4 linked regions of the Homo sapiens genome follow. The protein of the gene in region 2 binds, or shares a complex with, the protein of the main gene of each other region. Each region holds a gene or a part of one and is shown on either strand. Other genes may lie near its edges. The genes, in order: LIN9, RBL2, TFDP1 and MYBL2.

Region 1 (8,069 bases), on a different chromosome or scaffold from region 2:
ATACAAGTGCTTTATCAGATATAAGATTTGCAAATATTTTCTCCCATTCTAAGGGTTGTCTTTTCACTTTCTTGATAGTGCCCTTTGAAACACACAAATTTTTAATTTTGATGAGGTCCAATTTATACTTTCTTTGGTTGATTGTGCTTTTGTGTCATAGCTGAGAAACTGTTGCTTAATCTAAGGTCATGAAGATTTACACCTATGTTTTCTTTTAGGAATTTTTATGGTTTAGCTTTTACATTTAGGTCTTTGGTTCATTATGAGTTTCACATTTGTATTGTATATGATTTTTTAAAAAGCTTTGTTATAGTTTTCATTAGAGTAGTGTAACATACTAAACTCCACTAAACTTGGATGTTATACATAATATCTAGCACATGTAGAGAATTTTATCTTTTATTATCTCAATTTTATGGACATGCATCCTCACATTGTGATCTAGGTAGGGCAGTGTAGTTATATTCACTCCCCAAATGGGAAAGACGAAGGCAGAAAGGTTCAATGACTTGTCCGAGATCATGGTGCTCACTAGAGGTAAAGCAAGGCTTAGAACCCATGTCTTCTGCTCTCACTCCTCACGCCTGTTTCCACTGCTCTGAACATGTTCAGGGAGATGATTCTGAAGGGAATTACCAGGATGGCCACTGGGCACATTTTTGAGAATATTTATGTTGTAAAAGAGGGATTCTCATCAAGGAAGGATACCAACAGTCACTGGAGATCTTGGTAGGCACTTAATTTACAATATGTAATTTAATCTTCATGATAACCCTTCAAGAAAGGGAGAAGAAAACTAAAAACTACTACTGAGAGTAATTTGTTCAAGAATACACACAAGGGAAGTAGGTGAACTGCAATTTGAACCTAGATCCTGGGGCCATCAGTACTCCTGGTGTACTTGGATGCTGGAAGAGGAAATGCTGAGTGTGGAGTCCTACCAGCAACATAACTTAAAAATATATATATTTATAGGCTGGAGAGCCTTTTTACCTCATTATGGCTGAGATACTCAAGCAAGGCAAACTGAATTGTCTTTGTTTTTTCATTACTAACTCAAATTCCCAACTTTATCAAAAGTATTTATAAAAACATTCACACACATACTATACACACACACGCTTTTTTTTTTTTTTTTTTTTTTTTTGAGACGGAGTCTCACCCTGTCACCCAGGCTGGAGTGCAGTGGTGTGATCTCAGCTCACTGCAGTCTTCACCTCCTAGGTTCAAGCAATTCTCCTGCCTCAGCCTTCCAAGTAGCTTGAATTACAGGCACAAGCCACCACGCCTGGCTAGTTTTGTATTTTTAGTAGAGACTGGGTTTCACCATGTTGGTCAGGCTGGTCTCAAACCCCTGATCTCAGGTGCTCAGGCGATCCACCTGCCTCAGCCTCCCAAAGTGCTGGGATTACAGGTGTGAGCCACTGCACCAGGCCCCCAACACACACATTTTATCTTTAGTCATTGCAACTGTTTTCACAAAAATAATCCAACCCAATAATTGATAAATAGGCCACAGGACTAGAAATGGTCAAACCTGGTATTTCTAAAACGTGGCCATGTTTATTTTTCTTATGGTATTTTTAAAATTTTTTAGAATTTTTGTGGGTACATAGTAGGTGGATATATTTATGATGGTACATGAGATGTTTCTTATGGTGTATTTTTATTTAGGTTTTTCATGACTTAATGACCTTATCCACACCGTGGTTTGTTTTTTTTAAAAAGCAAACACCACACACAGTCATGTCATTTTAAATTGGAATAAGTGATTGCAGGAAACTTAATACCCCTGTGTTGCATGTTGCTATGGTTTGAATGATGGTATTCCCTCCAAAATTCAGTTGTAACATAATCCCCAATGCAACAGTATTAAGTGGTGTGGCCTCTGGGAGGTGATTAAGTCATGAGGGTTCTGCTCTCGTGAATGGGGTTAGCACCCTTATGAAAGGGCTCAAGACTGAAGGAGGTGTTCTCTTGCCTTTCTGTCCCTTCTACCATGTGAGGACACAGCATGCATCCCCTCCAGAGGATGGAGCAACGAGCCACCATCTTGGAAACAGAGAGCTGCCCTCACCAGACACCAACATTGGCACCTTGATCTTGGACTTCCCAGCGTTTGAAACTGTGAGAAATAAATTCTTGTTGTCGGCTGGGCACGGTGGCTCATGCCTGTAATCCCAGCACTTTGGGAGGCTGAGGCAGGTAGATCACTTGAGATCAGGAGTTCAAGACCAGCCTGGCCAAACTGGTGAAACCCTGTCTCTACTAAGAACACAAAAATTAGCCAGGAGTGGTGGCAGGCACCTGTAATCCCAGCTACTCTGGAGGCAGAGGCAGGAGAATCGCTTGAACCCAGGAGGCAGAGGTTGCAGTGAGCCGAGATCACACCATTGTACTCCAGCGTGGGTGACAAGAGCAAAACTCCATCTCAAAAAAAAAAAAAAAAATTCTTGTTGTCTATAAATTACCCAGTCTCAGATGTTTTGTTATAGCAGCACAAATGGACAAAGACATACGTGTAATCCTCCCATCACAGAGGGAGTCACTGAGGCACCGAAAAGTGGGCTAGATTCCTGATTCTAGCACTTGCTTGCCATTGTCTTTGGACAAATTACCAGGTTGTTGGGAGAATCAAGTAAGCCAATCATTGTAAAACCTGTCATAAATATTCAATAACGAAACTTATTGAAGAGTTAGGTGTGCCTTGGCTTCGATCACACAGCTAAGCGCTAGATCTGGGGCTAGGATACAGCTTCAGGCTTTGGATTTATGAGAAGAGTCAAAGTTTTTGTTTAAAATGCAGATTATCAGGCAAGGGCCTAAAAACATTGATTTAAACAGTAGTTGTGTTGTTGCGTGTACATGAAAACTGCCTCAGAATAAAACCAGGTTTGCCTTGGTCTAATGACACCTTGACTATCATGACATTCACAAAGCTTTTGCTTCTCCCACTCTGGTAACCTCTCATGTTTTTTTAATTTCTATTCTTCCATTCTTAAAGGGCTGACCTTTTCTTGATCTCATCTCCAAATTGATACTGAAGTGCAAGCTGCTGAAGCACCCCCTAGGTGCTGACAACAAGGACCAGTGTTTTAATCTTCTTAGGGAGCAGATCAGAGTGTGTTTAGAAGGCAAAGGAGAGGTTAAGCTAGCTCTGAAGGAAGGATTACTTTGTAAAATTGAACTTTCACCCTCCCTGCTCACTCCCTGCTCTCCCTCCTACCTTAGCATGGCAGCACCCAGTTACCCAAGGCACAGAGCTGGCATCAGCAATGAGACTTCCTTCTCCTCACACCCAGTGACTCACCCAATCCTTTATTTTCCACGTCTTGAAAGGTGGAGTGCATGCTGCCACCTCTCTCTAATACTGCCTATGCTGTGGTAATGGTGGTAATAGTGGCTAGCTGATGGGTGCTAGCAGCTAGTATAAGGTCCTTACATCTATCAAATCGTTTAGCCCTCAAAATAACCCTGTTATTTGCATTTTACAGATAAGAAACTGAGGCACAGAGAATTCGGTTAAGAAACCAACGTGCCTGAGATTATACAACTAGCAGCCCATCTGGATTCTTCCCATCGAGGCCCTGGGGCTCCAGAGCCCACCCGCTGCACCTCTCTAGCTACCAGTGCAGGCATCTCTCTTCTGTCCTTTGCATGCCCCAAATAAGCTTCTTCCTGACTGGTTTCTAGGCTCTCATCTTGTCCCCCACCAATCCATTTCCCATATTTTTGTTCTAAAACACAAATAGAAACGTGCCCCTCTTACACCCGACTTTTCCACTGCTCCAGTGGACTAAGCAAGTTCAACTCCTTAGCCTGGGCGGGCCTCTGTGTACCACTCTGTCACCTTAGTCTACCGCCTTTTAACTTTGTAGTTCCTGGAATTCACCCACGTTGTCTTTTGACTGCTTAACGGTCTCATTCCTCCAACCCCCATAAATTCCTGGAGAAAAGGATTGGAGCTCAATGACATTCGTTAAATGAATTTTTGAAAAGCAACAGTGTTTTATTACTGGAAAGTGTTACAGACAGATATTGTGAAATTTTTCCTTGGGCTTCTTTCAATTTCGTTCAATTCTCGTCCAGTATTCTCATAACATTTGGATCAGGTACTTTATCACCTTGTAGTGTCACTGTTCCTTTCTGTATCCTCTCGAAGCCTCCTGTTACTCGTTTTCTAATTCTCTTCCAGCCCACTGCACGATCTAGTGTCGAATGGATGAAACAGCTGAGCAGAACAGTTCTTTAGCTGTCGGCCTAAATGACCAACTTCATGACCTCTCAAGGTCTCGCTCCCCGGCTGCACGCAGCTCAGCTTCCAACATTCGGGAAAGGCGTGCCCGGATCGCGAGGGGCCGCTGGGACCGAGTCCCGGACGTCGCGACGCGCAGGGGGCTGCTGCGGCCGGCGGTCTCGGGAAAAGTGAGGGGACGGAGGCGCCCAAGCAACGTGGGTTTCGGGAACTGTGAGTATTTCACTTTGCGTAGAGCCCCCTCGGGCAATGCGACCCAGAACCGAGGGCTTCTTTCCCCCCGCCGGGGCCTCCCTCCCGTTCTCCACTCGGAACAAACAGCCTGCAGTTCCCGCAGCTGCAGCGCGGGCCGCGGAACATGCGCCGGGAGCGGGGCCCGGGCGGGACTCCGGAGCTGGTACTGCTCCCCCCGCGCTCCGGCGCCGGGCCTCGCCGTGCGGCCTCCTTCCTCCCTTCCTCCCGCCCGGCTCGGCCGGAGGCGGCGGCGGAGGGGCGAGGCGCGGCCCCCCTTCGGCGGCACCTCCTCCCCGGGCAGGCGCGGGCGGAGCCGGGCCCGCCTCAGCCAGCCGCGGCGGGAGCAGCGCAGCGCGGCGCCGCGGGCAGCGAGCTCCGCATTCGAACCTCCCTCGCAAAGACAGTCTCCGCCCCACAATGCACCGCGGCGGGCAGCCTTTGAAAAAGCGGCGCGGCTCGTTCAAGATGGCGGAGCTCGACCAGTTGCCTGACGAGAGTGAGTAGCACCTCAAAGCACCCCCCCCTTTTCCCGCCTGCTGCTTGCCCAGCGGTTGCACCGGCCGGGACGGACGGCCGTGCCCTCCGCTGGGCAGGTGGGCTGACTGCCAGCCCCACTGTGGTCCCCTAGTCCTCCCACTCCGGTGTTGCCGCCGCGTCGCCGCCTTTGTTATGGTGTCTGTGTGTTGGTTTCTGGGGTTGTGTGAGCGCCAGGGCCGGAAACCGAGAGCCCGGGAGTCCAGCCTGTGCCAGGCGGAGGCGGTGGCTGCTCCCCTGGCGCCACTCCGGCCCCCAGCCGAGGTGGAGGGAAGAGCGGCCCCTGGGCGCGGGGGCTGTCCTCGCCGCCTGCACCACTCGCCCGGCGCCGAGAGACGCCCGCCGGGGTTATGTAACTCGCCTGTCCCGGGGCCGGGGGAGGGCTCGGGCTGGGCACGGGGTGGTCCACGGCCCCTTCTTCTTGCCCCAGCCTCTGATCTTGTCCTGTCACAGCTCCTGCCTCTACGGGCACTTGTGATCTTCACTGTCCTCCCCACCCCCCCACCGGTGTGTCCACCCCTGGAAGTGTTTCCGTGTCAGAGGGTTGGCCCCTTCCCCTGGGACCACAGGTGGCTGTGGACCTTTCCTGAGATCATCCAGCCCGGATACTCAGTGTTCAGGTAGACCCCGTCCCGCAGACTTTATTCTATATGTGTCTTAAGAGCCATAAAGGTACCTTTATGCATGGATGTGACCAACACAGCGTACGTGTACCCTGCCTGACACCCACCCTAGGGCATTGCCTCCCCTAACCATGTTTACTCACCCTGACATCTAAGACATGTATGCTCACTTGTGTTGAGTAAGTAAAAGCACCAATTCCATAGTTTAAGGGCAATGGAACTTAATTTTGTAATTTACAATATTGCATAAATTATATGAAAAGACAAATATGTTATTTAATTACAAAAAAAAGTCCTGAATCCACTTTCACTATTCAGTTTATACATATTTGTGAAAGGCTCAATTACTATTGAATCTTATCTATGCACAAGGCAAATGGACTTAAAAATGAGGACTCAACATACTACCGATTCCATTTTCTTTGTGAGGTCATGTGTTCTTAGTAAGTTATAAAGTTAAAAATTCAAGTTGCCAAGCTGGTGAAAAGTCGTATTAAAAGTGTTTGTGTTTTAAATTTGATAGAGAGCAGCACTAAGTCCCCAAGGAACTTTGTCCATGATAGAACTGTTCTCTTTTGTGATGTCCAGTAGGGCAGCCAAGCTACTAGCCATATGTAGCCATGGAACATTTCAAATGTGGCTAGAGTGATGGAGGAACTGAATTTTGAATTTTATTTAATTTTAACTTGCATAGTCACATGTAGCTAGTAGTCACTGTATTGGGTAGGGCACAGCTATTGACCAGTCATGAGCTGTACTGTTTATTTGTAGAATACAATTGATTGTGATTTATTTTATTTATTTATTTATTTTGAGATGGAGTTTCACTCATTGCCCAGGCTGGGGTGCAATGGTACTATCTCGGCTCATTGCAACCTCTGCCTCCCAGGTTCAAGCGATTCTCCTACCTCAGCCTCCCGAATAGCTGGGGTTACAGGCATGTGCCACCACGCCTGCCTAATTTTTTTGTATTTTTAGTAGAGATGGGGGTTTCTCCATGTTGGTCAGGCTGGTCTCGAACTCCCGACCTCAGGTGATCCACCCGCCTCGGCCTCCCAAAGTGCTGGGATTACAGGCGTGAGCCACCGCAGCTGGTCTTGATTGTGACTTAGAATGCTCCCAAATGAGTGTGGACCTACTAAGCACAGTGTACTTGTCATCCGAAAATGTTTTTCATCATCCTTGGTATCTTTATCATAAACATGTCTTATCACCTCTTGGATGTCACAATCACTAGAGCTACTGTTTTGGTTACTGTAGTCATTCTGTTGTAATGAGAGGCATTTTAAGTGGCTTTCTTACAACTGCCATTAGGAATATTTGCTTCATATCATCCAGCATTTATTGAGAATTTACTGTGGTTCTTTGTAGGGACTTGGGATTTATATTAGGGTTCAAATTCCAGCTCCACTTTCAAATTATATAACCTAATCATTTATATTACTTTGTGACATCTCTGGTGCATTGGTGTGTATTTGTGAAGCGTATGTCTTGTTTAGGTAGACTTCAGCTTTGTTGAAACCAGGGATTTTCTTTCTTTCTTTGTCATACAGTGCCACAAATCAAGTATACATAAATAATTTTTATGGAATTAGTGCAAAGTAACAGGTATTATTACTGAAACTAGAGCAGGGTCTTGAAAAGGAAAAGCGATTTCAATTTGATACTGGAAATAGCAGTATGTTTTTTGGCCACATTTAGTCAAGGAGGCTAGCTAATATATTGTTCAGGAGTCGATATAACATTATCAATAATGAAAGCTACCATTTATTGAGTATTTACTATGAACCAGATGCCATGCAAAGGATATTACATGTATTTGCTCATTTAATCTTCATTTCAGTTGATGTAAGTGCTCACATTTTATATAAGGAAATTAAGGCTATCTTCAGCCCAGATCTTTCCTGAGCTCCCTTTCTTGATATCTCTTGCCTGTTTCACATTTCTTCTTAGATGCTTCAAAGGCCCCTCAAACTGCACAGGTTTAAAATCCACCTCAGTCCTACCCCAGGACAGATACTTCTAGTGATTCGAATGGTTCCACTGTGCATTCAGCTGGCAGGGCAGAAACCTAGAGATTTTCTTTGGCACTTCCCTCTCTTTCTTTTCTTTTGTTTTTTTTTTGAGACAGAGTCTTGCTGTGTCACCTAGGCTGGAGTGCAGTGTGCGATCTCAGCTCACTGCAGCCTCCGCCTCCCGGGTTCAAGCCATTCTCCTGCCTCGGCCTCCTGAGTAGCTGGGTTTACAGGCGCCCGCCACCACACCTGGCTAATTCTTGTATTTTTAGTAGAGGCGGGGTTTCACCATGTTGGCTAGGCTGGTCTCAAACTCCTGACCTCAGGTGATGCACCCGCCTCAACCTCCCAAAGTGCTGGGATTACAGGGGTGAGCCACCGCGCCCCCAGCCACTTTCCTCCCTTTCA
Region 2 (7,465 bases):
CTTTGTAGAGAGGTGGTAAAACACCTTAATCAGATTGAAGAACAGATCTTAGATCATTTGGCATGGAAACCAGAGTCTCCACTCTGGGAAAAAATTAGAGACAATGAAAACAGAGTTCCTACATGTGAAGAGGTTTGTGAAAATAACATCTTTTTATGAGAAAAATACATCAATATCTAATCTATTAATAATCCTTTTGGGGATGGGAGGGTGGCAATTAGGTTTAATATGTTATAATTACACCTTGTTATGAGAAAAATCTTGGACTGTAACGTCCCTCTCTACCCACAAATTGGGAAGGTGCCAAGAGACCAAAGAATGACTCAGACAAGTCCAGCTTGGTAAGTAGATAACGTTTATTAAGACTTACATATGGAGGAGGCAGAGGTGGTGGGGAAAAATAAAAGACTTATATACAGGGTACTCCTAGGTAGCAGCAGGACAGCTCTAGAGATCCTCGCCACCTCCCATCGCTAAGCTGCTTTTAAGCTAATTTTCTGGCTCTTTGCCTACTATGTGTGTGCACGATGGGACTGTTTTCCTTGGTAGTTTCTCAGATCTTCTCTGGGATGTTGGGGTTCTCAGGGACACCTGTTCCTTGGCTGGGCACCATGGCCTTGGCTCACTGCCTAGCCTTCAGGGTTTAGGCAGCAGACATACACCCTTAAGTAAGGTAGGTGACCTGTCACATTTCACCCCATGTCAAAGAGGAAACGAGTCAGATAATTTGTGGTTGTCCTAAGATTTTGGTGACAGAGTAAAAATTCAGTGTTCTTTCTTGATTTCCTTACCAAGTTTCTTTCCCATAGAGCAGTGGTCCAACCTTTTTGGCACCAAGGACCAGTTTCATGGAAGACAATTTTTCCATGGACAGGGTTGGGGGTTGGAGAGATTTTGGGATGATTCAACTGCCTTACATTTATTGCACACTTTATTTCTATTATTATTACGTGGTAATATATAATGAAATAATTATACAACTCACCAAAATGTAGAGTCAGTGGGAGCCCTGAGCTTGTTTTCCTGCAACTAGATGGTCCCATCTGGGGGCGGTGGGAGACAGTGACAGATCAGCAGGCATTAGATTCTCATAAGGAGCATGCAACCTAGATCCCTTATGTGTGCAGTTCACAATAGGGTTCACACTCCTGTGAGAATCTAATGCCACCACTAATCTGACAGGAGGCCAGCACAGGCGGCAATGTGAGCGATGGGGAGCAGCTTTAAATACAGATGAAGCTTTGCTCGCATGCTCACTTGCCTGCTGCTCACCTCCTGCTATGTTGCCCAGTTCCTAACAGGGTCCATGGCCCAGGGGTTGGGGACTCCTGCTTTAGAGTGGTTGATATTCAAACTCTCCAAACCAGTAATGAAGTTTGACTCATATTTAGTATCCAATTACAAGGTTTTGAATTTTTTGACTGCCAAAAGTTTTTTTTTTAACTTTATTATTAAAATGGGAAAGACAGCTGATTTTATTTAGATGGAATAATTGTTAAGATACTTTTTCTGCCTTAGATTACTATTGTATTTGTAATTAAAGTGCTTTTTTGGATACTGGCATTCTGTGTAACCAATTCTTCATAGGTCATGCCACCTCAGAACCTGGAAAGGGCAGATGAAATTTGCATTGCTGGCTCCCCTTTGACTCCCAGAAGGGTGACTGAAGTTCGTGCTGATACTGGAGGACTTGGAAGGAGTAAGTTTAAAATACTAGGAGAATATTTTGGGGCTTACTATCTGGAAATTTAAATTTCATCTAACCCTACAAGTGAAGTTAATAGGGTATACATAGAAGAAAATATTCTATGCATTTTTGTACCACATGGATCACTTAAAAGAAGGGCCTTTAAAGACTAAGAACACAGGAAAATGCATGATATAACAGGTATCTTTTAAAAAGGATAGACTGCTTTATTTATTTATTTATTTATTGAGACAGAGTCTTGCTCTGTCACTCAAGCTGGAGTGCAGTGGCCCAATCTCAGCTCACTGCAACCTCTGCCTGCCGGGTTCAAGCGATTCTCATGCCTCAGCCTCCTGAGTAGCTGGGACTACAGGCATGCGCCACCACGCCTAGCTAATTTTTGTATTTTTAGTAGAGAAGGGGTTTTGCCATATTGGCCAGGCTGGCCTTGAACTCCTGACCTCAAGTGATCCGCCTACCTCGTTCTCCCAAAGTGCTGGAATTACAGGCATGAGGCACCGTGCCCGGCTGACTGCTGTATATTTAATATGATCCCTATTTTTAAAGTGTATGTTTATTTATGAGCATACAAAATAGTGGAAATGGAAAAACCAAACTGTTAAGATCATTGTTGGGTGATAGAATTCCTGGTGATTTCTGTAAAATTTTTAAGGCAAATACATATTACTTTTAAAATCAGAAATAGAAAAGCCTTCTTAAAGATAGAGCTGCATGATCCAGTTAGGTATAGACAAGCCAGTGAGTTAAGACAACTGAGTATGTTCCACTTTGTTGAGCTGTGCTACCCTAGTTAATGTGACATTAGTGCTGGCCCAAGAAATACAGAAAAGGGCAGTTTTGCTATCTATCTGGTTTGTATTTTTTAGGCAGCTGCTTAGAAGATCTGCAAGGTGAAAGGTTTTAGTTTACATATGTGAGATAGAACTACTTTTTTAAAGAGCAATTCAGTAAATCCAGAGAGTTCTAAATCCTTGGATCCAATTAAAAGAATATTCTTATTTCTAGATCAGTTTTATAATGTAATTGATAAGAACTGGCTATAGAAGGAATACCAGTTTTAAAGTCAGGATTCACTCTAGGCTGGGCATGGTGGCTCATGCCTGTAATCCCAGCACTGTGGGAGACCTAGTGGGGAGGATCACTTGAGCCCCGGAGTTCAAGACCATCCTGGGCAACATAGCAAGATACCATCTCTACCCCCAACCCCCCCAAAAAAATCACTCTAAGTGTATACTTAATACACATGGATGATCCTTATGAAAAGTCCTCATTTTTGAAAGATCTGACAGCTGGTCTTTCTTAGTCTATTTTTGTAGAATTTTCCGTTCCCTAATCTACAGATTAGGAAGACTTGACTTTAAACTTCATTTTCTTTGTACTTACCACTTCTCAGTTTTCCTGAGATCTCTTGATATTTTATAAGAAAAAATGATCATAATCTATTCTTTCTGATTCTGCAGCTTTGTACCAAATACAAATCTAGTAAGTTTATTTACTTTTGTATCATCTGGAAATAGAAATGTTAAGCCACAGTTTGTTAGGATTTACTCCTATCAGTACTTCTTACAAACTTTCTATGTATATTTTAAATTTTAAAAACACTCTGATGCACAGCTCTTAGAAGTGGACACAGAAGAAGGAAGAAATGCTTCTCAAAAATTCAGACATTGGTGTGAATACTTAAAAATAGACTAAGCCATAATGGGTTGTGTACCACTGAATCATACACTTAAAAATGGTTGAATGGTAAATTTTATGTTATATATATAACCACAATTTTAAAAAACTAGCCTGTAATACCAGCATTTTGGGAGGCCAAGGCGGGTGGATCACCTGAGGTCAGGAGTTCGAGACCAGCCTGGCCAACATGGTGAGACCTCATCTCTACTAAAAATACAAAAATTAGCCATGCCTTGTGGCATATGCCTCTAATCCCAGTTACTTGGGAGGCTGAGGCACAAGAATCACTTAAACCCAGGAGGCAGAGGTTGTAGTGAGCCGAGATCAGGCTACTGCACTCCAGCCTGGGTGATAGAGTAAGACTCTGTCTCAAAAAATAAAAAAAATAGTAACAATTTGCCCCAAACCATTGAATTGTATAATTTAAGTAGATGAAATTTATGGTATATAAACTGTTTTAAAAAAATAAATTATGCTTAACTGAATCCAAATCATGCATGTCCACCTTGCTTAAGAACATTATTGAGTTTTAATAATTTTTTATATGTGGAAAAAGACAGAGATCAAAATTGATAAAACCGGTGGCGGAATGCTCCTAGATGACATACTACCAATCAGGTCCCCTTATCAAGTAGTGGCTCTGTAGTAAAATCACATCTTACATGAGTGGTAGGTAGAAAGTGGATATGATAGAAAATATTATAGAAAAATATAATATAGAAAAATAGGGTAATTCCTTAAATTGCCCCTAAATCATGAAGGTTCTTTAGTAGTGGAAGACAGAGTCAGGTCTGATTTGGGAAAGGGGGCGTGGAGAAAGGAACACTGCAAGACAAAAAATTCCGTTTTAAAATTTTGCTCTCAGTAGTGTTCACTGAACACGAATGAAAGTTCACTAATGAATATAGGTAAGATATGACTTCTGTAATTCTTGTTTGCTTTTTGAATTATGAAGTATTTCAAACACTGTAGTTATTTTTTAACATAAGAGCTTGGACGGAAGTCAGATCTGAGTCTCCTTGAGTTAAATGCTTTGTTTGATTTGTTTTGACCCTAGGCATAACATCTCCAACCACATTATACGATAGGTACAGCTCCCCACCAGCCAGCACTACCAGAAGGCGGCTATTTGTTGAGAATGATAGCCCCTCTGATGGAGGGACGCCTGGGCGCATGCCCCCACAGCCCCTAGTCAATGCTGTCCCTGTGCAGAATGTATCTGGGGAGACTGTTTCTGTCACACCAGTTCCTGGACAGACTTTGGTCACCATGGCAACCGCCACTGTCACAGCCAACAATGGGCAAACGGTAACCATTCCTGTGCAAGGTAAGGAAGGCAGAGTTGGATATTGAGTTCCTTCTCTGTGGCATGTATTGAAAAGTTACCCGAGGTTTGGCTAGAGTGACATAGGGGACAGAGGAGTGATGGGGAGAGAGGGTTTGGGAGAGCAGAAATTGTAAACCTCTGCCCGGAGAACCTCTTATTATCAACATTTTCTTCATGCTTTTTTTCTCTGTCACTAGGTATTGCCAATGAAAATGGAGGGATAACATTCTTCCCTGTCCAAGTCAATGTTGGGGGGCAGGCACAAGCTGTGACAGGCTCCATCCAGCCCCTCAGTGCTCAGGCCCTGGCTGGAAGTCTGAGCTCTCAACAGGTGACAGGAACAACTTTGCAAGTCCCTGGTCAAGTGGCCATTCAACAGATTTCCCCAGGTGGCCAACAGCAGAAGCAAGGCCAGTCTGTAACCAGCAGTAGTAATAGACCCAGGAAGACCAGCTCTTTATCGCTTTTCTTTAGAAAGGTAATTTTTCACATACCTTATCAGAGCATGAGCTTGGGAAATACAAGTGTTAAACAAAGTTTGAAATGTTTTTATCTCCTAGGTATACCATTTAGCAGCTGTCCGCCTTCGGGATCTCTGTGCCAAACTAGATATTTCAGATGAATTGAGGAAAAAAATCTGGACCTGCTTTGAATTCTCCATAATTCAGTGTCCTGAACTTATGATGGACAGACATCTGGACCAGTTATTAATGTGTGCCATTTATGTGATGGCAAAGGTGAGTACCATTTGGAATTGTAAAGGCAAAGATAGGTCTTCATTACTGAGAACATTTTTTAACCACTGTCTTGAGATACAGTTTACATGCTCTATAATTCACCTATTTAAAATGCACAACTAAATGGGTCTTAGTATATTCACAGATATGTGCAATACTCACCACAATTTTAGAACATAATATTCCATTGTATAGTTATATGAGAGTATTTTTATCCATTTATTAGCTAATGTATATTTTAGTTGTTTCTACTTTTGGCATATATGCATAATACCACTATTAGCATTTGTGTTTGGGTTTTTGTATAGACATGTATTTTCATTTCTCTAGGGTATATACCTAGGAATGGGCTGCTGGGTCATACATTAACTGTGTTTTAACTATTTAGGGAATTGCTAGATTGTTTTCCAAAGTACTGTACCATTTTACACTTACACAGCAGTATAATAAAGATTTTAGTTTCTCCACTATCTCATTAACACTTACTATCTTACTTTGTTTAAATAACTTATTGAGGAGAAATTCACATAACATAAAATTAATTGGGTTTTTCTTTTTTTTTTTGAGATGTTGTTTCATTCTTGTCACCCAGGCTGGAGTGCAGTGGTGCATCTCAGCTCACTGCAACCTCTGCCTCCCAGGTTCAAGCGATTCTCCTGTCGTAGCCTCCCGAGTAGCTGGGATTACAGCCATGTGCCACCATGCCTGGCTAATTTTTGCATTTTTAGTAGAGATGGGGTTTGACCATGTTGGCCAGGCAGGTCTCAAACTCCTGACCTCAGGTGATCTGCCCACCTCGGCCTCCCAAAGTGCTGGGATTACAGGCATGAGCCACTGGGCCCAGCCAAATTAACTATTTTAAGTTGAACAATTTAGGAGCATTTAGCACATTTACAGTACTAAGTGTAATAAATGGTTGTATACTCACCACCTCTGTCTAGTTCCAGAACATTTCCGTACCTGCAAAGTAAAACTCCTTTCCTATTAAGTAGTTTCTCCCCATTCTACCTCCCACAGCACCTGGCAACCAGCAGTTGGCATTCTGGCTGTATGGATTTATCTGTTCTTAATCGTTTATAGAAATGGTACAATATGTGACCTCTTGTGTATGGCTCCTTTTACTTAGGATAATATTTTCCAGGTTTACCCATGTTGCAGCATGTATCAGTACTTCATTCCTTTTTATGACTGAATGATATTCCATTGTATGGATAGGCACAATTTTTTTCTCCACTCATACACTGATGGATATTTGGGCTGTTTCCAACTGTTGGCTATAGTGAATAGCACTGTTGTGAACAGGTATATCATGTACCTGTTTGAGTGCCCATTTTCAGTCCTTTTGAGTTTATTCCTAGGAGTGGAACTGCAGGGTCATATGGTGATACTATGTTTAACTTTTTTGAAGAACCACCGTACCATTTTCCACAGAAGCTGCACCATTTGACATTGCTACCAGTAATGCACAAGAGTTCCAGTTTCTCCACATCCTTGCCAACTTATTATTTTTATTATAGCCATCTTAGCGGGTATTGGGTGATATATCATTGTGGTTTTGATTTTCATTTGCCTGATAACTAAGGATGTCAAGCATCTTTTCATGTGCTTACTGGCCATTTGCATATCTTATTTGGAGAAATATCTTTAAATCCTTTGCCCATTTTAAAATTATGTTATTATTGAGTTGTTGGAATTCTTTATTTTGGATACAACTACCTTCTCAGATGTATGATTTGCAAATATTTTCTCCCATTCGGTGTATCTTTTCACTTACTCGATAGTGTCATTTGAAGCATAAAAGTTTTTAATTTTGATGAAGTCCAGTTACCTGTTTTTTGGTTTGTTACTTGCACTTTGGGTGTCCTAAGAATCCATTACCAAACCCAAGGTCTTTTGATTTTTATAGTTTTATCTCATAGTTAGGTCTTTGATCAATTTTGAGTAATTTTTGTGTATGGTATGAGGTAGCAGTCCATTTCCATTCTGATTATGTGGTTGTGCAGTTGTCTCAGC
Region 3 (7,465 bases), on a different chromosome or scaffold from region 2:
TCACAAAGAGTGGACTTACAACGAGGAACTGACTTACAACGAGGAACTTACAAGGAACATCCCGATAAACCCGCATGAGCTGAAAATACCCTAAGTCGAAATGCACGTCATCCACCTCTCCTACCACACATCACAGCTTAGCCAGCCTACCTTACACGTGCTCAGATCACGCATGTTAGCCCAGTCGGGCAGAAGCATCTCACACAAAGCCCACTCTAGTCAAGTGTGGGTATCCCAGGAGACCCACTGAATACCACACTCAAAATGAAAAATAGGACGGTCGTATGGGCAGTGGAAGCAGTTTCCACTGAATGCATGTTGCTTTTGGACCATCTTAAAGTCAAAATCACAGGTCAAACCCACTGTAAGTTGGGAAGAAGAGAAAGCCAGAGGCAGGTACACACCAGGTGCTCAATGGTGCTCACCAACAACCTTTCCTGGAAGACAGGACTCAGCACCCAGGGGCACCCTGAGAACGAGCCACCAGTGCACTGGGAATGCGTTGTTTACGGAGGCCAGGTCTTACAGGAAGCTCTCCTTACTCTCCTGCTTTAACTGCTCCCTGCGGAAGGCCCCGCGGCATCCGGCCCATGCAGTGCTGGGCAAGGGTGCCTGCACCTTCCTCTGCGTGCCCTGCGTGGCAGCTCCCCTCACTGTGTCTCCGCAGCACTGTCCCTGCTCCTCACCCATCACCTGCTGCTCACCAGCCCTGTGAGCTGAGTCAGCATCACAGGGGCGGCCTGGAGCCAGCCCTCCCAGGAACGAGACAGAGGCTTTGCTCCCGGACCTGGCACAGGTGTGTGCGTTTCCTTCCTGGTGCACAGGAAGCCGGTGAACTCGGGCCGGCCGCCTGTGCCACAGGACGCCTTCCAGTCTCCCATTCAACAGACATGGAGCAGGCCCCCGGCCTCACTTCCCTACACCAGGAGCCACACTCAACAGCCAGAGGAGGCACGGCAACACACTGAAGCCCTGGAGGGCGTGTGTGGGCAGAAGCGCAGGGAAAACAGGAACCAAGGAGGTGCCAAAGGGTGGATGGGACAGTGCCGGGAAGGATAGTTCAGAGCTGGGCCCCTAGGGAAAAAAAGGAGGTATTGGAAGCAGTGGCCACGCTAGCTGGAGTGGTGGGCAGAGACCCTGGAAGGGAGAAGTGGTCACAGCACAATGAGGGGTACTGCCCAAAGCTGGGAGGCTGTGGGTCCCACTCCAACCAGGGCTTTCCAGGAGATCCAGGAGCCTCTGGGAGCAGGAGGCAGGCAGGGGCTGAAAGGCGCCAGGGACACCCACCCCTTAGATTTAACAGCGGCTTCTCTGGAGGATGGGCTCCGCCCTCACGACTCCCTCACCCGCCTCTCGCTGGGGAGCAGGGGAGGTGACCCAGGCCCCACAGGTCATAAGGGGTCTCCCTTCCTACTGTGCTCACGGCTGGAATCCAAGCTGCGCTTCAGAGAAAGTAAATGACATGGCTTCAGACACAGTCTACATGGCTCCAGACACAGTCTTTACACGGCTCCAGACACAGTCTTTACACGGCTTCAGACACAGTCTCTACACGGCTCCAGACAGTCTTTACACGGCTCCAGACAGTCTTTACACGGCTTCAGACACAGTCTTTACACGGCTTCAGACACAGTCTTTACACGGCTCCAGACATAGTCTTTACACAGCTTCAGACACAGTCTTTACACGGCTCCAGACAGTCTTTACACGGCTTCAGACACAGTCTTTCGACTCTAAAGCTTTTGCAGCTTCCACGCCAGCAGTCGTTAGAAAACAGCTCCAGGTGGAAGCATCCCACAGTAGAGGACCTGCCGGAGGTCCACCTTGCCCGAGACCAACCCTCCTCCCCCAGGAGCTCCCCTCCTCACTGGCTGCACAGTGAGCCTTGGTGTTTAAAGCAGCGATCCCCCACCTTTTTGGTATCAGGGACCAGTTTTGTGGAAGACAGTTTTTCCACAGACCGGAGTCGGGGGTAGTTTCGGGAAGAAACTGTCCCACCTCAGATCATCAGGCATTCGATTCTCATACGGAGTGCCACCTAGATCCTGCATGTGCCGTTCACAGTGGGGTTTGCGCTCCTGAGAACCTAATGCTGGGATCTGACAGGAGGCAGGGCTCAGGCGGCTGTGCGGCCAGCTTCCTAACAGGCCCAGGGGTTGGGGACTCCTGATTTAAGGCATCCCTTCTGCCCTAAGTGCACACTTTTTGCACCTTAATTTCACACACTCTAAAAACTGAGATTACGATGTCTCCGTGTAGTGTGACCCCACTCAGACACAGAATCCTAGAGATGGACCAAGGTTAACCGCGGTGTCCAGAGAGACAGGGCCAGTGGCGCAGCTGCAAAGGAAAGGCCACTGCGACCACAGATGCCGACTTCTGGGACACAGGCCTGGGTGGGGGGCTGCTTCTCCCCAGGGGCTCACACAGGCCGCTGCTCCTGCCGGCTGAGCACATATGTCCTCTGTCCCGCACACGTTCCTGTGCGCGTGCTGAGCTCTGCAGCACCACAGGCTTCACAAGCATCCGCACCTCAAAAGACCCTGACCTTGACAAGCCCTGCGCCTGCTGACTGGTGCAGGTCAGAGACCTAAGGACCTCCCCACCGCTTTCACTCACATGCCCGGACTGAGCCCCACCCCTCGTGTCAGAATGAGCCAGTCCAGTTTTTTGTAAACCTCTGGTATATAAAAAGGTTTAAGAAACATTTGCCCTTTGTCAGCTTTAATTCCCATCACTGGGATTTTGCAAAGCACAAAACAGCAATGACAAACTCCACCCGAACAGCTGAATTTAAATCAGGAACTTGACTTTCAGTGACGAAGTTTAAAGCACATCAATAAGATAATCTTCTCATTCGTTTCCCCCCAGTGTATTCACACCGGCAGTAAAGACGAAAGTGGTGCTACAATTATTCACCCAGACAAACTCTGCTATGACACACAGCACCTATAAAATCAAACTTAGAATTCCTAGTCAACTTATAAGCAAACCTATAATCTAATTATCAAGCAAAACAAAAACTGAATTTTTAGCTTTTATCAAAATGGCATTTACTGAAAAGCCGTGATCTGCTGTGCAACGTGGTTGAAAAGCCGTATGACGTGGTAGGGCTTCCACAAACCGCTACTTTCAATGGCCACAAAACTTCTGCAGAGCAAGTTTTTTGTCACCTTCCACAGGCAGGAAACGGGGCCACAAAAGCTGCCTGGGATCTGGAACCGCTCAATCAGGACAGCTGTGTGGGAGCACACACGGGGAGGGGGGCTGCGGGGAAGCGGGGCGCAGGGAAGTGGGACGCGGGGAAGGGAGCGCGGGGAAGGCAATCCTGCTCAGATCCTCAAGGCTGTGACCCACAAGCCACTCTCTCTTAAAACTCATATCCTAACATCTGTTAAAGAATCCAGAGAATTTCAAGCATATTTAAATAAACGGAAATAGCAGGAATGCATATAAAATAAAGACTAAAGTGCAAAAATGACCAAAATATCCCTGGTATGTGGTCATGTTCTCTGAAGAAAACATGATTAGACCAAAGGGAGATGCCCTAGACAACAAAAAACAGCTCAGTACAGAGAGCTCTCCACAGGGCCAGGGACACCTGAGGATGCCTGGGGATCCATGAGAGACACCTGGGGACACCTGAGAGACACCTGAGGACACGTGAGAGACACCTGAGGACACGTGAGAGACACCTGAGAAACACCTGAGGACACGTGAGAGACACCTGAGGACATGTGAGAGACACCTGAGGACGCGTGAGAGACACCTGAGGACACGTGAGAGACACCTGAGGACACGTGAGAGACACCTGAGGACACGTGAGAGACGCCTGAGGACACGTGAGAGACGCCTGAGAAACACCTGAGGACACGTGAGAGACACCTGAGGACATGTGAGAGACACCTGAGGACGCGTGAGAGACACCTGAGGACGCGTGAGAGACACCTGAGGACGCGTGAGACACCTGAGGACGCGTGAGACACCTGAGGACACGTGAGAGACGCCTGAGGACACGTGAGAGACGCCTGAGGACACGTGAGAGACGCCTGAGGACACGTGAGAGACGCCTGAAGACATGTGAGAGACGCCTGAGAGACACCTGAGGACACGTGAGAGACGCCTGAGGACACGTGAGAGACGCCTGAGGACACGTGAGAGACGCCTGAGGACACGTGAGAGACGCCTGAAGACACGTGAGAGACACCTGAGAAACACCTGAGGACACGTGAGAGACACCTGAGGACACGTGAGAGACACCTGAGAAACACCTGAGGACACGTGAGAGACACCTGAGAACACGTGAGAGACACCTGAGAAACACCTGAGGACACGTGAGAGACACCTGAGGACATGTGAGAGACACCTGAGGACACGTGAGAGACACCTGAGGACACGTGAGACGCCTGAGGACACGTGAGAGACGCCTGAGGACACGTGAGAGACGCCTGAGGACACGTGAGAGACGCCTGAGAAACACGTGAGGACACGTGAGAGACACCTGAGGACACGTGAGAGACACCTGAGGACATGTGAGAGATACCCTGAGAGACACCTGGGGACATGTGAGAGACACCTGAGAAACAGCTGAGGACAAGTGAGAGACACCTGAGGACACGTGAGAGACACCTGAGAGACACCTGAGGACACGTGAGAGACACCTGAGAGACACCTGAGGACACGTGAGAGACACCTGAGGACACGTGAGAGACACCTGAGGACACGTGAGAGACACCTGAGGACACGTGAGAGACACCTGAGAAACACCTGAGGACACGTGAGAGACACCTGAGGACACGTGAGAGACACCTGAGGACATGTGAGAGATACCCTGAGAGACACCTGGGGACATGTGAGAGACACCTGAGAAACACCTGAGGACAAGTGAGAGACACCGGAGGACACGTGAGAGACACCTGAGAAACACCTGAGGACACGTGAGAGACACCTGAGAAACACCTGAGGACACGTGAGAGACACCTGAGAAACACCTGAGGACATGTGAGAGATACCCTGAGAGACACCTGAGGACATGTGAGAGATATCCTGAGAGACACCTGAGAGACACGTGAGGACATGTGAGAGATACCCTGAGAGACACCTGAGGACATGTGAGAGATACCCTGAGAGACACCTGAGGACATGTGAGAGACACCCTGAGAGACACCTGAAGACATGTGAGAGATACCCTGAGACACACCTGAGGACATGTGAGAGATACCCTGAGAGACACCTGAGGACACGTGAGAGATACCCTGAGAGACACCTGAGGACACGTGAGAGACACCCTGAGAGACACCTGAGGACACCTGAGAGACACCCTGAGAGACACGTGGGGACATGTGAGAGATACCTGAGGACACCTGAGAGACACGTGAGGACACCTGGGGATGCCTGAGAGATACTTGGGGACACCTGGGGACACGTGAGGATGCCTGGGAGACACCTGAGGACACCCGAGAGACACGTGAGGACACCTGGGTATGCCTGAGAGACACCTGGTGACAGTGAACGGACAGGTTCTCATCCCACCCGGAGGTGTTCAATCCTTTTAAGAGGACTGGGCCACAGCACAGACGGAGCAGGGTGAGGGGGTGGAGTGGGCCAGGAGGCCGGGGTGCAAGAGGTGCTGCATCACCAAAGCCCAGGGTTGGCAGGAACAGGGCTGGGGCAGCTGCCCAGGCGGGGCCACAGCATCATCTCAGGACCAGGAAGGAGCCCTCAGGCACCATAAACAAGTCCCTGAGGAAGGACTGGAAGCCCGGCCTAGCCTTGGGATGGCTATGTCCCTCACCACCAGCTCCAGTCACAGCCAAACCTGCCCACCAAGTGCCTGGGGCCCCATTTCTGGTGAGGTCAGGATTCTGTGTGGGCTCCCTGTCTCCAGTAGGCTGCCACCGGCAAGGACGCAGAGGGCGGACACGAGACAGGAAACAGCATTATGAGAAGCAGCATCAGTTGGCCAGCATCAGCCTGGGGAGGGGGGATGCGCCACTTCCCAATGCCCACCTTCCCCTCTCCTGTGCGTGGCCAAGGGAGCAGCATCTGCCCTGTCACTGCCCCGGGGCAAACGCACAGCCACGGCCAGGGCCCTATCCCTCTCTGGCTTCCCAGCCTGATGTCTCCAGGAGGGCCACAGCCAACGCTCGGCCACATCACGTAAGAAGCCCCTGTTAGATGAAGAGCTTCGAGCTCTGACACTAAAAGGAAGCTGCCTCTGGTTGGGGCCGCGGCCCCACCCACCACCCTCCAGTTACTGGAAGGATGGCATGGGCTGGGGCACACAGGAGTGCTGTGGGCGCCATCACCTCTCCCACAACAACACGTGGGCAGCTGCAGAGGGCTATGGAAAATCTAGCACTGGCCACGGGCTCCCTGATGAGGGAAAGGCCCCATGCTGCAACTGGAGCCCAAATCCAGGCACACCTGGGAACATCCCCAACCACACGGCTCATCCGATCCCGACCTCACACCGAGATCCCGGCTGTCCGCTCCTGCGGGAGGCTTACCACTTGCTGGGCAATGTTGACATTGGACTGTCCAAAGGTTTTTGGCAAGAGCTGCTTCCCGAGCGGGTTGACGGTGGAGGGGTGAACGGCCACGAGGGACACCACGCCTGCAACACAAGGACACCAGGTCAAGGGCGAGACTCCTTTTCTAAGTTAAGGCTACAAGCGACCATTCTAAATGCAAGACGGTGCTTGCAATTAGAGATGCTTAGCTTTCCCCACGTGTACTGTCTCAAATCCAGGGCTCAAGAGCAACACCTCCATGAAGCTTGATTCCCAATGTAAACCCGTAAGGGGAGGGCCGCAGGGCCGCGCTGACGCCACCCAGGTGACCCAGGCAGATCATCCACTGCTCCAGCCCCTCGGCGATGTCTGCTATGGAACGTGCTGGTGGGGACCACGGCCTGGAAAAGTCTGTGATTCTATGACAATTATGGAACAGAATTTTAAAACTAGAATTTTTATCGCAACATTTCTCTATAAGGCTGCAAAACTAGTTTGGAAATCTGATAATCCACTTTTCCTTAGGAAGGAGAACCACATTTGTTCCTAGGAAGGAGTGTGCCTTCCACAGAGGCTGCGGCTCTAAACATGCAGGTGCCCTCAGAACACTGGTGAAGCAAGCGGGAGACCCCTCTGCAGGAGATGTGAAGCCTCTGTCTTCCAACAGCGGTATGCAAAAGGTCCTAGGGACAGGGCGGTGGATAAAAGTCCTGGAACATTTACACATAAACAGAAGTAGTAATGATAAAGTTCAAAAACTGGCATCAGCGGGCAGAGAGAACTAAACAAAGAAACCGTAAACCAGGTGGTAGCGAGCACCCTGGGAAACAAGTTGGGAGGCCTGGGTGGTCAGCACAGCCCGGGAGGGGCGTCAGGGCAACACTGGAAGGGTGGGCGGCCACACAGAGGCAGCAAGGGGCTCGCAGTGCCCCACTGTAGGGACCGGCCCCACA
Region 4 (7,793 bases), on a different chromosome or scaffold from region 2:
TTTTGTATTTTTAGTAGATATGGGGTTTCACCATGTTGGCCAGGCTGGTCTCAAAGTCCTGACCTCAAAGTAATTTGCCTGCCTTGGCCTTCTAAAGTGCTGGGATTACGGGCATGACCACTGTGCCCAGCCTGAATCTCTTTTGATGACCCATATTTTATGAGATACAATTCAAACTCTAGCATTCCCAGCTTTCTCACTTGAGGTCCAAGCCTTTCTAACTCTCCAGCCCAAATGTTAGCTTTGTAACATTGCATCCACTCAATTTAAATGGAATGTGTAGAACCCCTTCCATGAGTACCTACCAGAAGCCAAGCTATAGTAAAGGTCTGAAGCTTAAAATGTGCACAGGCTGTCCTTTCTCTTGAGAGAGAAATAAAATGGTGGAGGAAGTGTGATGAGGACAAGAATGATAAGGAGGATGCTCTGGAGGTGGAGGGGGAAGACTCCAGCCAGAAGGGCCATGTGATTCTACTTATCATCAATTAGTGTTTGGTGTCCAAGCTGGTGCTGAGCCCTGAGCATTTAATAAATTGATTTGACCCTTATCTTCCCAACACAGGGTCAGGCCTGGGGGTTGGGGCAAATTGTGGAATAACCAAATACCTGGAGCCTCCCTGTCCAAGGAGGGCGTGTTCAGGAAAAGTTTCCCAGCAGAGATAAATTCTGTATGTTACTAGTCCAGAGTCCAGGGACCACTCCCAGGTGTGGTTTCACTCGGGACACTGGGAATCCTCTCTCCAGGGGATATCTGTTGGTATGATGATAACTGGAGAGGAAATGTGTGGAGATCATCAGATTCCATCTGGCACTAGGGTGATCTCCCTGCTGCCTGACTCACAGCACTGACTCCAGGCTTCTTTGGCTCTGGGGCATTGGTTAACTGGCCCCAGTTCCAGGTTGCAAGTGCACTCTGCAGCTGTTCCCTGCCTCTTGCTTTGGGCAGATACCTTGCCCAAGCTGTCAGGTCCTGCCTCTCCCTGAAATGGGATGACTAATGTGTGGACCTCAAAGGATAAGAGTGAGGGCAGCTGAAGAATTACAGTAGTAATAATAGCTAACAGTAATATAGTTCTTTTTTTGCTGGGCGCGGTGGCTCACGCCTGTAATCCTAGCACTTTGGGAGGCCGAGGTGGGTGGATTGCCTGAGATCAGGAGTTTGAGACCAGCCTGGGGAACATGGTGAAACCCCGATCTCTATTAAAATACAAAAAATTAGCCAGGCGTGGCGGAGTGCTTCTGTAACCCCAGCTACTCGGGAGGCTGGGGTTATTGAGACGGAGTCTTGCTCTGTTGCCAAGGCTGGAGTGCAGTGGCACGATCTCAGCTCACTGCAACCTCCGCCTCCAGGTTCAAGTGATTCTCCTGCCTCAGCCTCCTGAGTAGCTGGAGTTACAGGTGCATGCCGCCACGCCCGGCTAATATTTTATATTTTTAGTAGAGATGGGGTTTCACCATGTTGGCCAAGCTGGTCTCAAACTCCTGACCTTAGGTGACTCACTCGCCTCAGCTTCCCAAACTGCTGGGATTACAGGCATGAGCCACTGTGCCCGGCCAATATAGCTCTCATTATGTGCCAGGAACTGTTTTTGGTGCTTTACACATATTAATTTATTTAATCCTATAATTACCTACAAAGTATAGTGATTAAGAGCATAGACTCTAGAACTAGACAGGCCAGGTTTGAATCCCTGCTCTGCCATTTACTAGCACTGTGACCTTGGGGAAGTCTGTGCCTCAGTTTTCCCATCTGCTAAAAGAGGATAATCCCAGTATCTACCTCATAGAGTTGTTACAAGGATTAAATGAGTTACAATTTATAAACAGAATGCTGGCTGGAAATATTAGCTGGGCATGGCGGCGTGCTCCTGTAACCCCAGTTACTTGGGAGGCTGATAGTTTAAAAACTATCTAAAATTTTGATAAATCCCATTTTTCCAGGTGAGAAAACTGAGGCACAGAAGAGTTAGGTAATTGGCTGGGCATGATGGCTCATGCCTGTAATCCCAGCACTTTGGGAGTCTGAGTCGGGTAGATCACCTGAGGTCAGAAGTTCAAGACCAGCCTGGCCAACATGATGAAAACCCATCTCTACAAAAATACAAAAAATAGCCAGGCATGCTGGCGCATTCCTGTAGTCCTAGCTACTCGAGAGGCTGAGGTGGGAGAATCATTTGAATCCGGGAAGTGGGGGTTGCAGTGAGCCAAGATCACACCACTGCACTCCAGTCTGGGCAATAAAGCAAGACTTGGTCTAAAAAAAAAAAAAAAGTTAAGTAATTTGCCTAAGATACCGCAACTGAATGGTGGAGCTGGGACTCAAACCCCAGGAAGTTTGGCTGTGGAGGCTGTGCTTTCAATGAAGTGGGCATGTCCACATTAATTACTTTATAAGGGGAGTGGGCGGGAGAAACCCTGAATTAAGTGATGTGGAAGCTTCTAGCACTTAAGATGTGAGTTAGTCTTCCTTCTGTGGTAAGTGAAGTTTGCAGCAGCTGGTGGCTGGACTGTCCCCAGGTGGCCAGCAGCTTCTGGAAGGGGGCTCTGAGGCCTGAACAGGGGCTAAAAGGCTGGGGTTTGATTTGGTTTCTTCAGCGTCCTGTCTCAGAGCTCATTTATCTTCCTCTCAGCACTGCTCCCAGGAAGTCCAGTGTGACTTGATCCTTGGTACTTGGTAAATGTCAATCTAATATAGAAAACCTTTGCTAAATCTCAAGGAAAGACAGTCTCACTGTCTGTCGCCCAGGCTGGAGTGCAGTGGCGGGATGACAAGGGCTTGAGCCCCTCGAACTCCTGGGCTCAAGCAATCCTCCTGCCTCTGCTTCCCAAGTAGCTGGGATTACAGGCATTCACCACCACAGCCAGGTAATTTCTTAATTTTTTGTAAAGACAGGGTCTCACTCTGATCCCCAGGCTGGTCTCAAACTTTTGGACTGAATCAGTTCTCCCACCTCGGCCTCCCAAACTGCTAGGATTACTGGCATGAGCCACTAAATCTGGGCTAATCTCTGGGAGTTTAAACCCAAGGTAAACAATTCAATGCAACAAACCTTTGCCTGGGGCTTCTTATGTCAGGTCTTCTACTGGGCCCTGGAGATACTGGTGTGCATTGAGAGGCCACCTGGACCTCAGGATGCTCCCAGTTCAAAGGGGGAAATGCAGAAGTCTACAGGCAGATTGTGGGCAGTGGACCCCAAATTAAATAGGAATCAGCCACGTGGGAGGGGCAGGAAGTGTTCCTGCCCTGGGTAATGGCTCAGGCAAAGGCAAAGAGGCCGTTTCTTTTGGCCAGGGCTGGGTGGTGGTCTGGAAGATCAGATAAATGTGATTGTGGAGTAAGGAATTTACCCTGAGGGAGAGGAGGATGGTTTTAAATTCTGGAAAGAGCTCACGCCTGCAATCCCAGCACTTTGGGAGGACAAAGCGGCAGGATCTCTTGAGCCCAGGAGTTTCTAGACCAGTCTAGGCAACAGCAACATAGCAAGACACCCCCTTCTCTTAAAAAAAAAAAAAAAAGCGCAGTGGCTCACTCCTGTAATTCCAGCACTTTGGGAGGCCGAGGCGGGCGGATCACGAGGTCAGGAGACCTATACCATCCTGGCCAACATGGTGAAACCTCGTCTCTACTAAAATACTAAAAAAAAAAAAAAAAAAAAAAAAAAATTGCCGGGCGTGGTGGTGTGCGCCTGTAGTTCCAGCTACTTGGGAGGCTGAGGCGGGGGAGTCGCTTGAACCCGGGAGGTGGAGGTTGCAGTGAGTCAAGATCGCGCCACTGCACTCCAGCCTGGCGACAAAGCGAGACACCGTCTCAAAAAAAAAAAAAAAAAAAATCAGCCGGGTGTAGTGGCGAGTGCCTGGTCTTAGCTACCCGTGAGTTGAGGTAGGAGGATCGCTTGAGCCTAGGAGGTGGAGGTTGCAGTGAGCTATGATCGCGAAACTGCACTCCAGCCTGGGCGACAGAGCAAGACCCTGCCTCTAAGAAAAATGAACAACAAAAAATAAAGTCTATTAAGGAGGGTCTCTTGGAGGCAGGAGAGGAAGCAGGGAGAGGCACAGGTAGGGTGAGGAGCCGCTTTAGGGTGCGGCTCTAGGGACCCAGTAGTGGCTTGGACTAGCGTGGGGGATTCCGCCCTGGCGCTTTCCCTGGCTGGCTCTCCCATGCTCGCGCCTCGCTCCCCTTCCTCGGTCTTCGCTATGTGGGATACTCCTGGGCCGCCCCGGACTGACACGTGAGCCAGGCCTCGGTCACATCCCGGCCCGCTCCACAACTCCGAAGTAGCGGCCGCCGCCCCTGTCCTGCAGCCGGCCCTGGAGGGTCTGGGCAGGTGCCGCCCCGCAGGCCCCGCCCCGCCCCGCCCCCTGGCTCCGCCCCTCACTCAGGCCCCTCCCCCGGCGCCCGCGCGCCAGGACTGGGCGGCGCCGACGCGCTTGGCGGGAGATAGAAAAGTGCTTCAACCCGCGCCGGCGGCGACTGCAGTTCCTGCGAGCGAGGAGCGCGGGACCTGCTGACACGCTGACGCCTTCGAGCGCGGCCCGGGGCCCGGAGCGGCCGGAGCAGCCCGGGTCCTGACCCCGGCCCGGCTCCCGCTCCGGGCTCTGCCGGCGGGCGGGCGAGCGCGGCGCGGTCCGGGCCGGGGGGATGTCTCGGCGGACGCGCTGGTGAGACGAGCCGGGAGGGCTTGGGCCCCTCCCCCTCCCTTTAACTCACCCCTCCCCCACCCAGATACCCCCGACCCTCCCCAGGCTCCCACCAAGCTGGGGTGTGTGTGTGTGTTGGGGGTGGGGTGTTTCCGCGGAAATGCTGCGTCCTGGGCCCTCTGAGGCAGGGGCGCGCGTAAAGCTGGGGGGCTCTTGGGCGTCCCTCGCGGCTCCCCAGGCCTGTTGGGCCTCGGAGCTGGGACGGGCGGGTCTCTTGGGACCCGGGCCAAGCCGTGCATGATGTCATTTTGTCTCCCGCCTAATTGCGGGATGGGGGTGGGCCGGCCGGTGTCAGCTGGCAGGGCCTTCGCCGGCGAGGGAGGCGACCCCTGGGAGCGAGAGGGAGTCTTCAAGTCCCAGCCAGTGGGAGACCGAGCCTGGGAGGCACTTGTTGCAGCCTAGTTTTGGGTCAACTTGGTGGGTGGGCTTTGCTCCTTAACATTCCGGGGAGCACAGAGTCCCCCAAGCCCTCTCCCCTGGACTGAGAAGGGTGCTGAGTTGGGGGCTCTTTTGTCTCTCCCACCTGGGTTCCGCGCCCCAGCTTGGTTCGGTTTGAGACCTCTCTTCCTGTTCCCACGAGGAGTTTTGGGCAGCTGGGGTTGAAGGTGCGGGGGAGAGAGAGAGTCCCTGGGGCAAAGGCAGGAACTGCGGTCTCCATTTTACTTATTTCCCCAGAGACTTAAGTGGCAGAGCTGAGCCCGGAGCCAGGTCTGTGGCTCCAGATCCCTGTCTTACACCTGTGCGCCTGGGGCCTGAGCTCCAAGCTTTTCAGCCTGCCTGGGAGACAGGACAGTGGGGTCCTGACCTCTTCCCTGCCTGGATCGCTGCAGCTCAGATAACCTTCGTTCCCTCTTTTTTTTTTTTTTTTTTTTTTTTGAGAAGGAGTCTCGCTCTGATGCCCAGGCTGGAGTGCAGTGGCGCGATCTTGGCTCACTGCAACCTCCGCCTCCCAGGTTCAAGCGATTCTCCTGCCTCAGCTTCCCGAGTAGCTGGGACTTCAGGCACGTGTCACCACGTCGGGCTAATTTTTTGTATGTTTAGTAGAGACAGGGTTTCACCATGTTAGCCAGGATGGTCTCGATCTCCTGACCTTGTGTTCCGCCCGACTCGGCCTCCCAAAGTGCTGGGATTACAGGCGTGAGCCACCTTGCCCGGCCAAACTTCGGTCCCTCTTTAGACGATAGCCTCATCTAAAGATGAAGCCTTCCATCCCTCTAGATTTTTGCCCTTTCAGGCTGAGGATAGGGATCTGAGCACAGGGACTGTGTTCCTCAGGCCCCACTTTCCCAGGCCAATGTCCAGGAAGAGTTTTCTGTTCAGGCGCCTATCAGACCCTGCCCTGGTTTTTTTTTTTTTTTTTTTTGAGGCAGGGTCTCCGTCTGCAGTCCAGGCCGGAGTGCTGTGGTGCTGTCATAGCTCACTGTAGCCCCAACCTCCCAGGTTCAAGTGATCTTCCCAACTCAGCCCGCTGGGACTGCAGGCTGAGTAGCTGGGACTATGGGCACGGGCCGCCACAACTGGCTAATTTATTTAATTATTTAGGAGACAGAGCCACTCTGTGTTGCCCAGGCTGGAGTGCAGTGGCACAATCTCGGCTCACTGCAGCCTCTGCCTCCCGGGTTCAAGGAATTCTGTCTCAGCCTCCCAAGTACCTGGGACTATGGGCACACGCCGCCACGCCTGGCTAATTTTTTGGATTTTTAGTAGAGATGGGTTTCACTGTGTTGCTCAGGCAATCCGCCTGCCTTGGCCTCACAGAGTGCTAGGATTACAGGCGTGAGCCACCGCGTCTGGCGTGTTTTATTTTGTGTAGAGATGGAAGGGGGCGGGAGTGGCCTCGCGTTGTGTCTCACCTCACTATGTTACCCAGGCTGGTCTCGAACTCCTGGCTTCCAGGGATTCTCCCCCACTTGGCCTCCCAAAGTGTCGGGATTACAGGTGTGAGCCACCTTGCCTGGCGCCATCCTGATTTTTTGTTCAGGAAGAGTTATTCCAGGAGTGACTGCCTCTAGACCACCCCAGGTCCTGGGCTACTTCTCCCATGAGGGGCTCAGTGGAGGAACCCCTCCTGTGTGAAGGATGGCAGCTCCACAGCCCTCAGCCCATTTCCTGGCCACTTGCTGTAACTCTCCTCTGCCCTAGTGCCCCACTTCCCGCTTTGTCTCTGACTCACCCCTGTCCTGGAGCAGAGCCCAGCACGTTGAAGGGCAAAAGGTAGGGTATGTTGGACCACAATGTGGTTGCCACCACTAACTGGACTCTGCTTTTTCAGCTGGGATTAGGATATGAGGACTTGCAGGTGTCTGGAGTTAGGAAGGTTCAGAGCCTGGCTCTATGAACTTGGCAGGTGGCCTCACCCCTCTGAGCCTCAATTTCCGCATCTGTTAAGGGGGATAATGAGAATGTGGGTGAAGTTGATGGCCAGCACATATGGTAAAGTATATCATCTCACAGAAATGCCCCAGCTGTCTGAGATGCTGACCCTATCAAACAGCATTGGAGGCTGGGTGTGGTAGCTCATGCCTGTAATCCCAGCACTTTGGGAGGCCAAGAGTTCAAGACCAGCTTGACCAATATGGTGAAACTCCTCGTCTCTACCAAAAATACAAAAATTAGCCGGGCGTGGTGGTAGGCGCCTGTAAGCGCGGCTATTCGGGAGGCTGAGGCAGGAGAATTCACTTGAACCCAGGAGGCAGAGGTTGCTGTGAGTCGAGATCATGCCACTGCACTTCAGCCTGGGTGACAAAGCGAGACTCTATCTCAAAATAAACAAACAAACAAACAAACAGCATTGGAGCACCAGGGAGTGTCCATGCAGACATCATTTCATCCTTGAAAGAATATTTGCTGACCTTCTGTTAGAAGCCAGGCCTTTGTGCTGGATGCTGGAGAAGCAAAGATGGTTTCTGTCACGAGCTGTCTGGGGGCAGTTGATTTTAAAGCCAACTTCATTCTGTTATTAGTATCTTCTGGATTTTTGCCTTCTATATTGAAGTGGTGGAGGACCCATGAACTGGGTCAGGAATGAATTCCAGATCCTTCTGTATTGCTGACTGTAGACACCGTCCCTCCTTTCCTATTTCTGAAAATTTTTT

The links.
Region 1: RBL2 (region 2) and LIN9 share a complex: the UniProt entries of both Homo sapiens proteins name them as parts of the DREAM complex.
Region 3: RBL2 (region 2) and TFDP1 share a complex: the UniProt entries of both Homo sapiens proteins name them as parts of the DREAM complex.
Region 4: RBL2 (region 2) and MYBL2 share a complex: the UniProt entries of both Homo sapiens proteins name them as parts of the DREAM complex.

The regions. Positions count from the first base shown.
Region 1 is NC_000001.11:226,306,025-226,314,093, reverse strand, and holds the start of LIN9 (protein lin-9 homolog), read left to right. Parts: upstream 1-4,954; coding exon 4,955-4,985; exon of another isoform or gene 4,986-5,643; intron 5,644-8,069. UniProt on the Homo sapiens protein: Acts as a tumor suppressor. Inhibits DNA synthesis. Its ability to inhibit oncogenic transformation is mediated through its association with RB1. Plays a role in the expression of genes required for the G1/S transition.
Region 2 is NC_000016.10:53,465,471-53,472,935, forward strand, and holds part of RBL2 (retinoblastoma-like protein 2), read left to right. Parts: coding exon 1-132; intron 133-1,587; coding exon 1,588-1,699; intron 1,700-4,445; coding exon 4,446-4,715; intron 4,716-4,912; coding exon 4,913-5,193; intron 5,194-5,275; coding exon 5,276-5,452; intron 5,453-7,465. UniProt on the Homo sapiens protein: Key regulator of entry into cell division. Directly involved in heterochromatin formation by maintaining overall chromatin structure and, in particular, that of constitutive heterochromatin by stabilizing histone methylation.
Region 3 is NC_000013.11:113,622,331-113,629,795, reverse strand, and holds part of TFDP1 (transcription factor Dp-1), read right to left. Parts: intron 6,617-7,465; coding exon 6,510-6,616; intron 6,504-6,509; exon of another isoform or gene 5,035-6,503; coding exon of another isoform or gene 4,789-5,034; intron 4,293-4,788; coding exon of another isoform or gene 3,567-4,292; exon of another isoform or gene 1-3,566. Other genes in the region: uncharacterized protein LOC124903219, read right to left, coding at 3,567-4,292, 4,789-5,034. UniProt on the Homo sapiens protein: Can stimulate E2F-dependent transcription.
Region 4 is NC_000020.11:43,662,645-43,670,437, forward strand, and holds the start of MYBL2 (myb-related protein B), read left to right. Parts: upstream 1-4,469; 5' UTR 4,470-4,639; coding exon 4,640-4,659; intron 4,660-7,793. UniProt on the Homo sapiens protein: Transcription factor involved in the regulation of cell survival, proliferation, and differentiation. Transactivates the expression of the CLU gene.